Homo sapiens: one gene and its partner. The protein of the gene in region 1 binds, or shares a complex with, the protein of each later gene. Each region holds a gene or a part of one and is shown on either strand. Other genes may lie near its edges. The genes, in order: XPR1 and KIDINS220.

Region 1 (8,033 bases):
AGGTTACTAATGACTCTCTACTTGCTAAACCCAATGGCTTAGAAGTCACCCTACTGAACTTCTCTATGACATTTGACATTGTTGATCACTGCCTCCTTTATGAAATTTTCATCTTTTTATGGCTTCCTTGACACTACTCTCTCCTGATAGTCTTGCTGCCCACCCTGACTACATCTCAGCCTCCCTCCTTGACCCATCTTCTTTATCAGGCTCACGGGAGGATGTTCCCTTGGGCTCTTTTCCTTTTCACTCTATTCTCTCTCTCGGCAGATTTGCCAGACTTAATTATCACTTAAATGCAAATGGTTCCTCAGTTTTCAGTCTTAACTTCTCTTTCTAGAGCTCTAGATCAGTATTTCCAACTGGAGTACTGCATGTTCCATTGATTCCTTCATATTTCCCACATCTCATGGAACCCCAGACCTGCTCTCTACTTTCATTTCTCATCTCAGTTCATGACAGCAGCATCTACCCAATCACTACAGTTAGAGTCACACGTCACATCTTCTTCTGTCCATGATCCTGATTGGCTGGAGCTGTTGCATCCACAGTCAGTATAATACTCATAGCACTCAAGAGCAAGGACTCTGCATCTGGGTTGCCAGGGCTCAGACCCAGGTCTATTACTCACTAGGGGGGTGCTCTTGAGTAAGATGCTTAACCTCTATGTCTAACTTTACTCATCTATAAAATGAAGATAACAATAGTAGCTACTTCTTAGAGTTCTTGTGAAGATTAAATACATTTATATTTGTAAAGTGCTTAGAACAGTGCCTGGCACATCATAAGTGTTACATAGCTGCTTGTTAATAAGTTGGTCTTGAGTTTGTCCCTGCCCTAGTCCATCCTTCACACTGCTGACAGATGTTTTTGAGGGGTTACCAATTTTTATGTTAAATCAGGGGCCAGTCATTATGTTAAGTGTTTTATATGGAGAATCTCATTTAATTCTCCAAACAACTTGTGAGGGAGGTGTGATAATACCCATTTAAGAGAGGAGGAAACTGGGGCTTTAAGAGCTAGTGCACTTTGCCGAAGGTCACATAGTTTGTAAATGCCAGAGTTGGGATTTTAATTCAGGCCTGTTTACTCCCAGAGCTAGTGCTCAAAACCAGGAAGCTACGCTAGCCTGCTTTTCCAAACCTAAGTTAGTCACTCACTGCTTAACCTTCTTCAAAGACCTCACACTGCCTATGCCGTCAGGAACTATTCCTTCACAATCTTGTTGCAACTTAACTTTATTTCCTACAACTTTACTCCATGGGGCTTCCTGTTTCCTTCTTCCTTCTCCCTCTGTTGGCCTCTTTTCCTTTGTTCCTTCAACCTTTATTGAATGCCTGAGTGCCAGGCACTGTGCTAAATTGGAGAAAACAAGAGACGAGCAGTTTATCTTCAAGGACCTCATAGTCTGATACAAACTATTATTGACAATACAGTAAGGGGAGTGCACTCAGGCAATGTGGGAGCCAGACTGGGAAGACAAGGGACAGGAGCAGGGAGAGTGTATTAGTCCGTTTTCATGCTGCTAATAAAGACATACCCAAGATTAGATAACTTATAAAGGAAAAGAGGTTTAATGGACTCACAGTTCCACATGGCTAGGGAGGCTTCACAATCATGGTGGAATGTGAAGAAGGAGCAAAGGCATGTCTTATGTGGCAGCAGGCAAGAGAGTATGTGCAGGGGAGCTGTCCTTTATAAAACCATCAGATCTCATGAGACTTATCCACTATCACAAGAACAGCATGGGAAAACCTGCCTTCATGATTCAATTACTTGCCACCAGGTCCCTCCCAAGACATATGGGGATTATGGGAACTAAGAGTCAAGATAAGATTTGGGTGGGGACACAGCCAAACTGTATCAGACCGTTTCTTTGAGAGGGGACATTTGGCTGCCTTAAAGGATACTCTGGTCAGAAAATTTCTTGTCATTCTTTAACAATTCTGACTTTGCCTTTTGCCTTAGGGAATCTTTGGGGTGTCTTTTTCCCTGTCAGATGATTGACTAAGACTGGATTTCAAAATCAGCTTCTCTGATCCTTGGATGTTTGTTTCTTTACACATATGTCAATTATAGCATGTATCGCACTGTAGCCTAAGAGCTATTGGTCTACCTGCCCATCTTTTTTTTTTTTGTTTGAGAGAGAGAGTCTTGCTCTGTCTCCCAGGCTGGAGTGCAGTGGTGCAATCTCGGCTCACTGCAACCTCTGCCTCCTGAGTTCAAGTGATTCTCATGCCTCAGCCTCCTGAGTAGCTGGGATTACAGGCATGTGCCACCAGGCCTGGATAATTTTTTTTTTTTTTGTATGTTTAGTAGAGATGGGTTTTCACCATGTTGGCCAGGCTGGTCTTGAACTCCTGACCTCAAATGATCCACCCACCTCGGCCTCTCAAAGTGCTGGGATTACAGGTGTGAACCGTCATGCCTGGCCCCATCTTTTTGACTAAATTGTGATTTCCTCCAAGGAAAAAACAGAGTCTTAATTTATTTTTGAACGGTCCTTCATTCCTAAAGTGACATAACCGGAATATCATAGGTCTCAATAAAGTTTTGTTAAATGAAGGGTTGCTTGCCTATTCACAAAAGAAAGTATAAGTCAGGGGGCTCTTCTGATTCAGAGTAAATAAGAGAGTCGGTGTTCCATAATTACTAAGTATTTGATGGTTCTATCAGTAAAATACCCAAAAATAACGCTGGGAATGAGGAAATGTATTTATTTACTTATTTTGAGACGGGGTCTTGCTCTGTTACCCAGGCTGGAGTGCAGTGGTGCAATCTTGGCTCACTGCAACCTCCACCTCCCGGGTTCAAGTGATTCTCTCACCTTAGCCTCCTGAGTAGCTGGGACTACAGGTGTGCACCGCCATGCCCGGCTAATTTTTGTATGTTTAGTAGAGATGGGGTTTCCCCATGTTGGGCAGGCTAGTCTTGAACTCCTGACCTCAGGTGATCCTCCCGCCTCGGCCTCCCAAAGTGCTGGGATTACAGGCGTGAGTTACTGTGCCTGGCAGGAAATTTATTATTAAATCTACTTCTGTGGATAAATTAAGTTGTCATGTCCTGGGTGGCAGGGCTCTGGATCAGGCATGAGAAAAATCAAGAATTTTAGAGCTAGTTTTGAGGGTTTCCTTACTTTCTTGGGTTGGGCCATGGTTCCAGAATTTTGTGCACAATTAAGGCATAGAGGTACGGTGCTGCTGGGAGCAGTGTGCCATGGTCCACCAGGGTTGCTACTAAGAATTTCCCATTCTAGTCCATGACTGGCTAAAGGCAGGAATCTCTTTTGTAGCTGTCCCTGGTTCCCTTTTCCCAGGCACAACATACAGCCATTTCCTTTCTGTGGTCTCGCCTCCTTCCTGGTAGCACACATATTCCTTTTTGCCTGTCTCTTTCTCCTGGCAAGGTTTACCTCCAGCAGAGGGGAATCTTTATGGTGAGCAGACGGAGGTCTGAGGTGAGAGGAGTCCTCACTCTTCTTTCTTTATTTTTTTGACCTTGATTACCCTTTCACCAGAGGTTAAGGCTTTTATACAGAAAAAGCCAGAAAGACTCATAGTCTATGCCTATTTTCCATCTTGTGTCATCCCTCTCCTGGGGAAATGATTGCAGAATCCCTATTGGCATGAATTAAGGGGAAGAGAAAGGGGAAAAAAGTACATGGAGAAAAAAAGACAACAGCAGAGAATGATATCTCAGAGCACTGCTCCAGGCATAGCAGTTCCCTAGTAAATCTTGAAATCTCATCAAAATTGTGAGGGTTAGGCTGAGCAAGGTGGCTCATGCCTGTAATTCCAGCACTTTAGGAGGCCTAGGTGGGAGGACTGTTTTAGCTCAGGAGCTCAAGACCAGCCTGGGCAACATAGCAAGACCCACATCTCTCCCAAAAATAAACAAAAAAATTAGTTTGGCATAATGGCATGTGCCTGTAGTCCCAGCTACTCAGGGGGCTGAGGTGGGAGGATGGCTCACAAACCTATGTGAGGTAAGGCTGCAGTGAACCATGATGGTGTGACTGCACTCCAGCCTGGGCAACAAAGCGAGACCAAAAAAAAAAATGTTAGAATCAAGGGACAAAGTACATGTAAGAGGTTTAGAATAGCACTTGGTACAGGAACAGTGAGTGCTCAATAAATTATTATTAGGTCTCCTCCACCCAGGGTAGGACCTGGGTTTCTGTCCTGAATTGGGACTTCCAAGACAATCACTCCCACACTCAATGTAGTACAGAGCTCTGTGAGTGATCTCTGCCCATGTTCCCCAGGGACACTTCAGCCTGGGTGCTGGGCCTGTTTCCGGTTTTACTGGGGTGGGCTTAGAGCTGTACTTCTACGGGGTTCTCTTTCCTCTCAACGTTGGTTTCCCTCCCAACCCTCACCCCCAACCCCAGGAAGCTCAGTTTACAAGTGCGGTCGGTACCCTCATTTGGTGTTTTTATTGGCTTTTCTGATAGCCCCTGGACTAGACAATTACATTGAAATTCAGAAGCAGCATGCACTTTTTGGCATTGATGTCTTTAATTAAATTCAATAAGCACTTATTGAGCACCTAGAGTGTGTAAAATACTGTTCCTTTAAATACATTTAGTCCTGAACTGTTTTAGCTTCTTAGTTTGGATTAGTGCTGATCCATTTCTTAAAGGTTTTATGAAGCATAAATATCAAAATGGAAAAATATTTGCACAGTTCTTTGTAAATATAAACGTCTTGTGTGGATTATTGTTGCTACAGTATTAATATTAACTGCAGTAACAACACTGCTGCTTCCCAGACAGGCGGTAGAAAGCAGCTGTAGGCCAACAGGAGCCAGACTGAAGAGATCCAGGGAGGTGCCTCCAGCACGTACGGCCCACAAGGGGCGGAGTCTTAAGAAGCGTACCCAAGCCCCACCCCTTACAGCACCCCCTTCGTCAGGGCGGTGTAGGCGGTTACCATGGCGATGACGTCCAGAGGGCGGGGAGGGGCGGGGCTATGGAGAGGAGGAGGAAGATGGCGGGCGGGCTGCTCTGAAGAGACCTCGGCGGCGGCGGAGGAGGAGAGAAGCGCAGCGCCGCGCCGCGCCGGGGCCCATGTGGGGAGGAGTCGGAGTCGCTGTTGCCGCCGCCGCCTGTAGCTGCTGGACCCGAGTGGGAGTGAGGGGGAAACGGCAGGATGAAGTTCGCCGAGCACCTCTCCGCGCACATCACTCCCGAGTGGAGGAAGCAATACATCCAGTATGAGGTACCGGCACGGCTGGGGTGTGGGAGGACTCGGAGGGGCCACCATCTCGCCAGTCCTGACGTCCACCGCCGCCTTCCGCTTCAGCTGGCTCCCTGTGCCCGGGCAGACTTTGACCCGCTGCCGCGGGGAGCCACTGCGGCATCCCCGCCGCGGCCGGCCGCCTCCCGGCTCCGCTGTCCTTCCCCTCCCCCGCAGCCCCGCTGCCGCCGGGGTAACGGATATGCAGGCGGAGGGCCGGGAGGAAAGGCGCTGCCCGGGCCGGGGCCGGGGCCGGGGAACGGTGGGAGGGTGAGCTGCAGGTGGGGGAGTCACGGTGCGAGGGCAGCCCCGGGTCGCGGCTGTTCCGCGCTAATCCCCTTCTCCCCACTCGCCCTGACCTCTCGTCCCCACCCTGGGCGAGCGCCCCCTCGCCAAGGTTAGGTCTTGTTTCTCTCTCTACACCTCTCACCAAGGAATCCTTGTCTTCCAAGAGAAGCCCCTCCAGTGATTTCCTTCATTCCAAAGAGCCCTTCGGCTTTTTCCCACTTGCCCACTGTTGACAAAGGCTTTGTAACGGGGTTGAAACTTGACTTAAGTGTGTATCACATATGTAGTGGTTATAGTTTTTGTAAACACGTTGTAATCAACTATTCTGCTTTGATAATAAGACTCTTTTTACTGATTGCATGAAGTCTACAGAGTAATAACATCTTTGTTTTTGCCTCTTGTTTTGGAATGGAGGGAAGAGAAAGGAGAGAAGAGAATTATTAACATTTTTTTATTTTCTGCTAAGTTTTTGCTAGCTGGGGAGAAAATTAGTATATTGTAAACAATATACCTTACCTGTGTATTACAGAAATCATGCTCCCCATTCCCTCCCAATTTCTGTGCTAACACTGCTGGAAGGTATTTAATAGATAATAAGGAACCTTACATTAATAAAGGGAAAAATAAAGATAATGAACCCATTTATATGTTCAGAAGACAAGATACCTAAGAGGCTTTAAGCATTGCAATAGGTTATTCTCAGTAGCTGGCAATTCAGCTCCTGGATAGAGAAAGACAGACTTATCTGTAACCTCCAGGAATTCACATCTGTTTTGTGTGCAGGAACAAAGAATATAAAATCAATATGAACACACATAACTTAGCTAGATTTTATGAATTAAACTATTTTAGTTCTCCATTTAATTTTTATATAAGTTTAGTGATAGGAGGTTTGGGCAATAGCAGTGAGTGTATTTATTCATATAGCCATTGTAATAATTGAAGAAGACAGGGAAAGAGATGCAGGTAGGTTAAACGGAATCTTGAATATTGTGAAATAAATTCACTTGCAACCTAGAGTATTTCATTATTGCTAGAAATGAAAGGCCTATAATTATTAATGCTTTATTGTCACTCAATTTCTTACAGTATTTTGTGGCCATGTTTTGTAAGAATGAGTGAAATAAGGGACTAACATTTCAGCCTGCAGAGTTGATTTATTGTTTCTAATAACATTTAGTTTTAAAACCTTGGCTAGAATCCAAGTGATGGTTTTTATTGAAAGAAGGGTATTGGTCTTTCATCTTTCTAGTAGTAATTTTCAGCACCACTGCCAGTTCTTCACAGAGGCACAGGATAGGAGCATGCTGAAGCACATCTTATATTTGTTATGTAGCATGGAATGCTTTGGGCAGAAGTAATAGTGGCTGGATGTATGCCATGATTCATTTTAGGTATTTCGACACTTAACTATTTCATGGAATTGTATTAATTTGCAATATCTGGGGCTGGAAGGAGAAGCATACGATTTAGTTTGAAAATGCAACCCTCTTAATTTGTAATGTCAGTTTTGTGGCTGGAGAACCACATTGATTCTGGGACTCCTCATTCACATAGTCCACTTGGATACTGTTCCTAAATGTTTACTGTAGGTTGGTCACAGAGGGGCAAAATTCCTGAGATTATGTTGTGTCTGCATTATCTTTCTCAGGGCAGTTATAAATTATGTTTTGAAAAATTCGTTTATTGTGGATAATTGAAATTTGATTCTGCGGAGAGTTCCTACTATATGGCTCCTGTCCTAGATAAACTCATTGTTTGGTAGACAAAATTAAATGAGGCGCACTTTTCTTTGTAAGTTGGAATCAACCAATATTTTATAGGGTTGGAATCTTGTTTTGTGTGTTGTTTCTGAAGAGTTGGTGCTATTCCTTTAAAAGTAATAGAGAGATGTAAATAAGAGTCTTTAGAGTCCAGGAATTTTAGCAGTTTAAAACTTTGGGGAAAAAGGACATCCATAAAAATTCTCTAGAGAAAAGGACCTTTTCATAATGAATTAAATTGTAGTTTCTCATATGAAGATGATGCTCTTAAAATGCTATCAGTAGAACAGATGCTGGGATTTGTTTTTCAAGCACTGGTGGTGAAATTTTTGTATTTTACCCTTGGTTTCTAGCCTAGGGTGCTTTCTAGTATCGTGAATCAATGTGAACTGTTCAGCTTCTTTGGTTTTTGTGTCATTTTGCTATATTAAATATTACTTGAAATAAGCAGAGAATTAGAATCTGAAAATTTTGTTTTACATCTGTAATTATATTTAATTATATATAATATGTATATATTGTAGCACAGTAAATACTAGTTTTTGTATGTGTTAGCCATGAGACCTGGGGACAATCTTTTTTGCCTTTCCCGGGCTCGCTCTTCTTCCATAAAGTAAGTATATAGGGCCAGAGCTTTTCAAGGTCCATTATAGGTCATGTTTTTGATTTAACTTTTAATGGCTTTTATTCCTTGAACTGATAAAATTATTAATGATAATAACCCATCAATATCCTGAAAATTATT
Region 2 (7,127 bases), on another chromosome or scaffold:
TACGTCACCTGATCAGAGCTTCTCTGACCACCGTGTATAAATGGTGTATACCATTTATACGTGTATAAAACAGCCCTCTCCCCCTCTACTATATCCCCCTTCCACAGCCCTACTTTAAAGGTCTTCTTTATAACACCTAGCATCACTCCACATACCACATACTTTGTTTTTGGTCTGCTTCCCCTAGCCAAACAAATGTAGCTCAATGAGAATAAAGACTATCTGTTTTGTTTACTGCTGAATCTCCAGCACTTAAGAGAAGTGCCTGGTACACCACAGAACCCAGTATCGGTAGAATGAATGGACATGCCCAAGCTGATCCAACCACCTGTAATGCCTGACCCAACTTTAACATTCTTAACAAGCCAAAACACACCCTTCAAAACCCCCCTCGCGGGTCACCTATAAACTAACTTATGTATGTATATGTATGTATGTATGTATGTATTTAGTTATTTATTTTTATTGAGACAGGGTCTGGCTCTATTGCCCAGGATGGAGTGCAGTGGCACATTCATAGCTCACTGCAGACTCAAACTCCTGGACTCAAGCGATCCTCCTGCCTCACCCTCCCTGAATAGCTGGGACTACAGGTGCATGCCAACACACCCAGATCATTGTTTACATTTTTAATTTTTGTAGAGACAGGACTTGCTATATTGCCGAGGCTGCTCTTGAACTCCTAGCCTGAAGTGATCCTCCTGCCTTAGCCTCCCAAAGCACTGAGATTACAGGTGTGAGCCTGCATGCCCAGCCTTGAACTAATTTATTAAGGGCTGTCTCTCTCCTTCATTCTTACATCCCCAGAACCTATTACAGATCTAGAACAGGTAGAAACTTAATAGATAACCATCAAATTAAATAACTGCATAGGTATGCTAAAGATACCTCTTCTGAAGGACTTTGCCCACCCACAGCCCCTGCTACCCTCAACAGCCATGTTCTCTAGCATCAGCCATTCCCAGGGATGGGCATATGATCTGTGGCATGAAACTGTTGAAAAAGATAAGCTGGGCCAATCAGACTTCTCTCTCTAGAACTGGGAATTAGAAACCAGAGACTGGGCCAATCAATATGGGTCACACATAAAATGATACAGTTCTGAGACAGCCAATCAGCAAAGAGAGAATACAACAGATATGAACAGAAAAGAGACTCCTCCTAAGTAAGAGAACAAATGTGGCCCCTAAGAGGAGGTCAGGGCTGCAGTGAGCCAAGATCACACCACCTGCACTCCAGCCTGGGCAACAGAGCCAGACCCTGTCTCAAAAAAAAAAAAAAAAAAAAAAAGTTGCCCCAGGGAGATGTAGAAAATGGAGGTACCTGGGATCCTGACTTCTTTCTGACTCTCATTCAATCCTATTATCTCCTTTTCCTTGAAGTAAAAGGTTTAAGTTTCTACTGTCTTCTAAACAGCCCTGACAAATACAGTAGCACATAAAATGGAGAAACTGACCGTTCTTGAGCAAAAGCAGGAAGAAGGGGATGGCACATTCATACATGATCCTATAAAAATTAATCTGGCAGTGTATGTGACCCAGACTGGAAAAATACAAAGAATCAGGGCCCTAGATACCAGTCAAGGAATCACCAGACAGTACACAAGAGAGGCAGTGGGAATAGAGAAGAAATGAGGGATATTAACTTGAAAAATATAAAATCCCTGACATTTGAACTTTCTGAACTACCAAAATATCCAGAAGAGATATTCTGGATATAAAGATAAAACTATGTGACTGGTTGGAAAAGAAAACAGGTGGAAGATGACCAGATGCCCAGCATAGGTGACTGAAGAATGGAGCTGCCCTTAACCAAAAAAAAAAAAGCAGGAGAAAGAGCAGACTTTTCTCTACTTAAGTTATGCCTCCTCCCTTCCACCACCCCAGCTGGGCGAATGGGGCTTTGGCCAGGCTGAATTTGAAGTGTCCCAAAAGAACTAGGTTGGAGAAACCCACCCAATACTTGGAAAAAGATACCGTTCACACTGTGTGTGAATGATCTGGAAATTATTCACACAAAGGGTGTAGAACAAGGATTCTCAAACTTGTGTGCACCAAAATTATTTGGGAAGCTTGTCAAATACACATATCCCTTGAGCTCCTCCCCGGGAGAATCCCATTCCCTAGATCTGGGGTGGTGCCCAGAAACTGACATTTTAACAAGCACCCCAAAATGATTCTGATGAAAGTAGTCCATGCTAGTAAAGCTAGAAGAGAACAAAGAACACACCTGGCCACGGCATTTCCCAACCTGGGCTCTGCACTCAATACCCCACGGTGGTTTAAAAAGGTGTAGATGTCTGGTCCTCAGTGTTGTCAAAATGTGGACAGGAACGAACCTGAAGGGGTGATTCCCGAGCCACACCTCAGGCCGAAGGAATGGGAATCTCTAAAACGCTAAGAAATCTACATTTTTAACAAGCGCCCATAGGGAGCAGAGATGGCTGCATAGTTATTCATAAAAAAATTTTTCATCGGTTTAAACCTGTCAACTTGAAAGAATAAAAATTCCAACATTACAAAGTGATGAAGAAATTATTTCCCTATAAATAAATCTTGGAGGCGTGGAAATCAATGGCTTGCACTATTTTGCCAGGCGTTTAAAAGCCTGCACAGGACAATGGAGCAATGGAGCCCACGATAAAAGCAAGGGAGAAAACAACACCTCCCGGCCCGTGGAAGCCTAGGAGGAGGAACCTAGAAAGACTAGCGGTACCAGCTAAGGGGGCTCTCAAGGTGGTGGATGTGCCAGAGGCTGCTTGGCAAAAGAAAAAAAACGGTTTTACCAACACCCTTCACCCCAACCCACCCGAGGGGCCCCTCAGGAGACAGACCACCAGAGACTCCAAGGTCGGAGACCTTCCCGGCGCTCCAGGAAACGCGGACTCGCCCCGAAAGCCGGGGCCCGAGCGTCCGGGGCCCGCGCCATGCCCTCCCCGGGACCCCCGGTCCGAGCTCGCCCCTTCCGCGCACTCCTCGGCTGTCCCACCTCCCCGCCCGACTCCCCGAGCCCGGCCTCGCCCCCGACTCCTCCCCAATCCCGCGGCAAAGCTTCGCGGACCGGCCTCCACACTGACGGTCTCCCAACCTGGTCCTCAGCTCCGGCGGAACGGGCCCGCTCGGCTGCAGGCGATGTCAGAGGACGGGGAAGCAAGAGACGGCGACTGCAAGCGCGTCGCCCTCACCACACCCGGCGGCCATATTCTTCCCTCTCCGCGAACTGACAGATCACGTGCCCTGGGTAGGGGAGGGACTCCGGGTTGCCACGCCCCCTGGGCGTGGAGGGGAGGGGCGGGGCGGGGCGTAGAGCAGGCGGGGCTGGAGGGGCCGCGGGGCGGGGACACCCAGGACAAGCGCCCCAGGCAAGGTTTTTCAGTGTCAATGTCACTCTTATTACAGTTAATTTATTATCCCTATTTTCCATTATAATCAAGCTTATTCAGAGAAATAAACATCAATTATATCTTCAGAAGAAACTGCACATACATAAGAAATGAAAGCCCGCTCAGCAGCCTTCTTCCGGATCCAGGAGCGAGACCTCTGCCTTTCGCGGGGCCTGTAGTTCACACTCCTTCCAGGTCTCCCAGCACCTCCCCTCACCTCCTTCAGCCTCCACATTCCTAGGCCTTGCTGCCAACAAGCGTCAATCTTGATTTTTGAAAAGGTCCAAGGATGATTACGACGTGCGTAGGTTGCGAACCATCGAAAAGCACCCACCAATGTGTCAACCTGGCAACTCAGGAAAAAGCCAATAAGGAGCCTGACTTCATCAGAAGTTGGTGCGGGGTGGGGACAATGGCTCACTCCTGTAATCCCAGCATTTTGGGAGGCCAAGACGGAGGATCACTTGAGCTCAGGAGTTTGAAACCAGCCTGGGCAACATGGAGAGACCTCTTCTCTACAAAAAAAAAAAAAAAAAAAAAAAATACAAAAATACAAAACTTAGCCAGGCGTGGTGTTGCACACCTGTAGTCCCAGCCACTTAGGAGACAGAGGTGAGAGGATCACTTGAGCCCAGGAGTTCGAGGCTGCAGTGAGCTGAGATCACACCACTGCACTTCAGCCAGGGCAACAGGGCAAGATCCTATCTCCAAACAAACAAACAAACAAACAAAAACGGAAGTTGGTGTGCCCCTCATGAAACAAGGAGCGAACACCCCAACGTGTACAGTGGAGTCCTAAATGGTGTGATTTCTTCGATAATGACTTGCTAAGGCCAGCCACTGTTGTAAACAGGGCAGGGTGGGTCAGGCGTTGGGGGTTAGAAGTATGGTAGGTGTATTAGCCCGTTTTCACACTGCTATAAAGAACCACCTGAGACAGGGTAATTTATAAAGAAAAGAGGTTTAATTGACTCACAGTTCTGCATGGCTGGAGAAGCCTCAGGAAACTTAAAATCATGGCGGAAAGGGAAGCAAACACGTCCTTCGTCACATGGCTGCAGGAAGAGAGGTGCCCAGCAAAAGGGTCAAAAGCCCCTTTTACATCCAACAGATCTCGTGAGAATTCACTCACTATCACGAGAACAGCACGGGGGAAACCGCTGACGTGATCCAATCACCCCCGACCAAGTCCCTCCCTTGACACGTGGGGATTATGGGGAATACAATTCGAGATGAGATTTGGGTGGGGTCACAGAGCCAAACCATATCAGTAGGATATAAGGATGAAGCCAACCTTAGAGTAGGGGAGAAGACAAGGAAACAGGTTAAATGTGCGTTATTTAGCACAGCCTTTCTGAGTCCTGACCATGTCCTAGGCACAGTGCAGTAAGGAGGTAAGCACAGAGGATGGAGTTACCAACTCTGCTTGGGGTCCACTAGGAAGGTTCACAAAAGAAGGGACCCCCCCCCCCCGCACCTCCAGCTGTATCTGAAGTATAGTTTGTCCATCACATCAGTTGGATGGGGCTAGGAAGAATGTCCAGGTCGGGGAACAACACTTTGGAAAAGAATAGAGATGAGAAGGAGGGTGGCCCAAAGTTCCAGGAACTGTCAATATTTGCCAGCCTTGGGGCTGGGGTGGCAGCATGGGAGGGGGCAGTAGATGGAGCAGGGGTCAGCCTCTGAAGGGCCTTGAGTGTTAAGTACCATTTGGGAATTTGTTCTAGGGAAATAGAAGGCCACTGAAGGGATTAGAAGAGTATCAAATTTGTCCTATGGAAATAGAAGGCTGCCTCCCCCAGCATCCACTACCCTTCCCACCACCCCCCAACCCCATCTTTCCTCAGCCTCCAGCTGTTTCCCTCAATCCCCTCCATCCTCCTCTTATCCTCTCACTGCTTCCTCCACCCTCTGCCCCCACATCCTCCCCCAACTCTCCCCACACCCCTCTTCCTCCCATCCCCCCCTCTGTCCTCCCGTCTTCCTCCAGCCACCCAAGCCTCTCCAATCCTCCCACCACTTCCCCTAGTCCTCCTTCTGTCCTCCCTCATCCTCTTCCCTCCCTCTCTTGGTAGCACAGTTTAGCACTCCCTCCTGGAAATATTTCTTTTTTTTTTTTTTGGAGACAGAGTCTCGTTCTGTTGCCCAGGCTGGAGTGCAGTGGTGCGATCTCAACTCACTGCAAGCTCTACCTCCCGGATTCACGCCATTCTCCTGCCTCAGCCTCCCGAGTAGCTGGGACTACAGGCGCCCGCCACCGCGGTCGGTTAATTTTTTGTATATTTAGTAGAGACGGGGTTTCATCGTGTTAGCCAGGATGGTCTCGATCTCCTGACCTCATGATCCGCCCGCCTCAGCCTCCCAAAGTGCTGGGATTACAGGCGTGAGCCACCGCGCCCGGCCCCCTCCTGGAAATATTTCTTCTCCTGGGCTTCTATCCCATTCTTCTGGCAGCTCCTTCTCAGATTCCACCTCCCATGAATTGTTGGGGTTGCAGAGTTCTGTCCCCACTGGACTCACCCATACCCCTCCCACCCACCCTTGCTCCTGCGTCACTAGTTTCAGAGACCTGGCTCCAACCCTAACCACCAAAACCGGAAGTTGGAAGTCATCTTCCCCCTGATTAAATGGTCAGTTAATCAGCCCATCACCTGACTGTAGCCACTTTCATCCCAGTGATCTGTTTAAAGGCCTCAGAGCTCCCAACCGGGACTATCCGAATACCCCCAGCAACTCTCCCTGCTAACCCAGTAGCCCTGCTAACCATTTCTCCACAAGCTTGCCAGCTAATGCCACTTCTTTCATTAAACTCTTCAGTGGCCTTCTGTTTCCCCAGAACAAATTCCCAAATGGTACTTAACACTCGAGGCTCTTCAGAGGCTGGCCCTGCTCTGTTTCCTGCCCCCTCCCACGCTGCTACTCCCACCCCAAGGCTGGTAAATATTGACAGTTCCTGGAACTTTGAGCCGTGCTCCTTCTCATCTCCATTCTTTTCCAAAGTGATGTTCTCCAACCTGGACATTCTTCCTAGCCTCATCCAACCGAATGTGATGGGCAAATTCTATTTAAGATACAGCAGAGGGGGTCACCTCTTTTGTGAACCTTCCTAGTGGACCCCCACAGAGTTGGCCATTTCATTCTCCGTGCTTATCTTCGTACTGCACAGTGCCTGGGACAGTGTCAGGACTCAGAAAGGCTGTGTTAAAGAAGGCACATTTAATCTCTGTCCTTGTTCTCTCCCCGACTCTAAGGTCGACTTCATCCTTATATCCCACCATACCTCCGACACCCCCTCCTCCACCCCGCCCTGTTTACAAGAGTGGCTGCCCTTAGCAAAGCCATTACCAAAGAAATCACACCATTTAGGTCTTCATTGTATGTGTGGGGGTATTCTCTCCTTGTTTCATGAGGGTATGAACCCAAAATATCTGAGACAGTCTCAGTCAATTAAGAAAGTTTATTTTGCCAATGCTAAGGAGCACCCGTGACATACTCTCAGGCAGTCCTAAGGACATGTGCCCAGGGGGATCAGGGTACAGCTTGCTTTTAAACATGTTAGGGATGCATAACACATCAATCCATACATGTAAGATTTACATTGGTTCCATCTGGAAGGGCGGGACAGCTGGAAGGGAGGGGGTGCTTCCAGGTCATAGGTAGATTTAAAATTTCTCTGATTGGCAATTGGTTGAAAGAGTTATTATCAGTAGAAAGGGGTTTACTTTCTACTTTTTAAGACTTTACT

The links.
Region 2: the proteins of XPR1 (region 1) and KIDINS220 are in contact, whole or in part, in a cryo-EM structure (PDB 9JXQ), measured with the Homo sapiens proteins. Residues at the interface, in NP_004727.2 of Homo sapiens: Leu95, Lys189, Lys190, Gln193, Glu197, Ala200, Asn204, Glu205, Ala636, Asp637, Asp638, Leu641, Leu642, Gln644, Met645, Met646, Asp647, Gln648, Asp649, Asp650, Val652, Arg653, Asn654, Arg655; in NP_065789.1 of Homo sapiens: Glu36, Cys37, Gln39, Asp70, Trp72, Met102, Trp105, Trp110, Tyr113, Lys114, Val138, Ile142, Trp143, Gly146, Arg147, Ser166, Asp167, Lys168, Tyr169, Gly170, Trp176, Arg179, Lys180, Gln198, Glu199, Gly200, Ala201, Ser203, Lys234, Arg267.

What each region holds. Positions count from the first base shown.
Region 1 is NC_000001.11:180,627,052-180,635,084, forward strand, and holds the start of XPR1 (solute carrier family 53 member 1), read left to right. Parts: upstream 1-4,970; 5' UTR 4,971-5,150; coding exon 5,151-5,219; intron 5,220-8,033. UniProt on the Homo sapiens protein: Inorganic ion transporter that mediates phosphate ion export across plasma membrane.
Region 2 is NC_000002.12:8,834,393-8,841,519, forward strand, and holds the start of KIDINS220 (kinase D-interacting substrate of 220 kDa), read right to left. Parts: upstream 3,222-7,127; 5' UTR 3,088-3,221; intron 1-3,087. UniProt on the Homo sapiens protein: Promotes a prolonged MAP-kinase signaling by neurotrophins through activation of a Rap1-dependent mechanism. Provides a docking site for the CRKL-C3G complex, resulting in Rap1-dependent sustained ERK activation.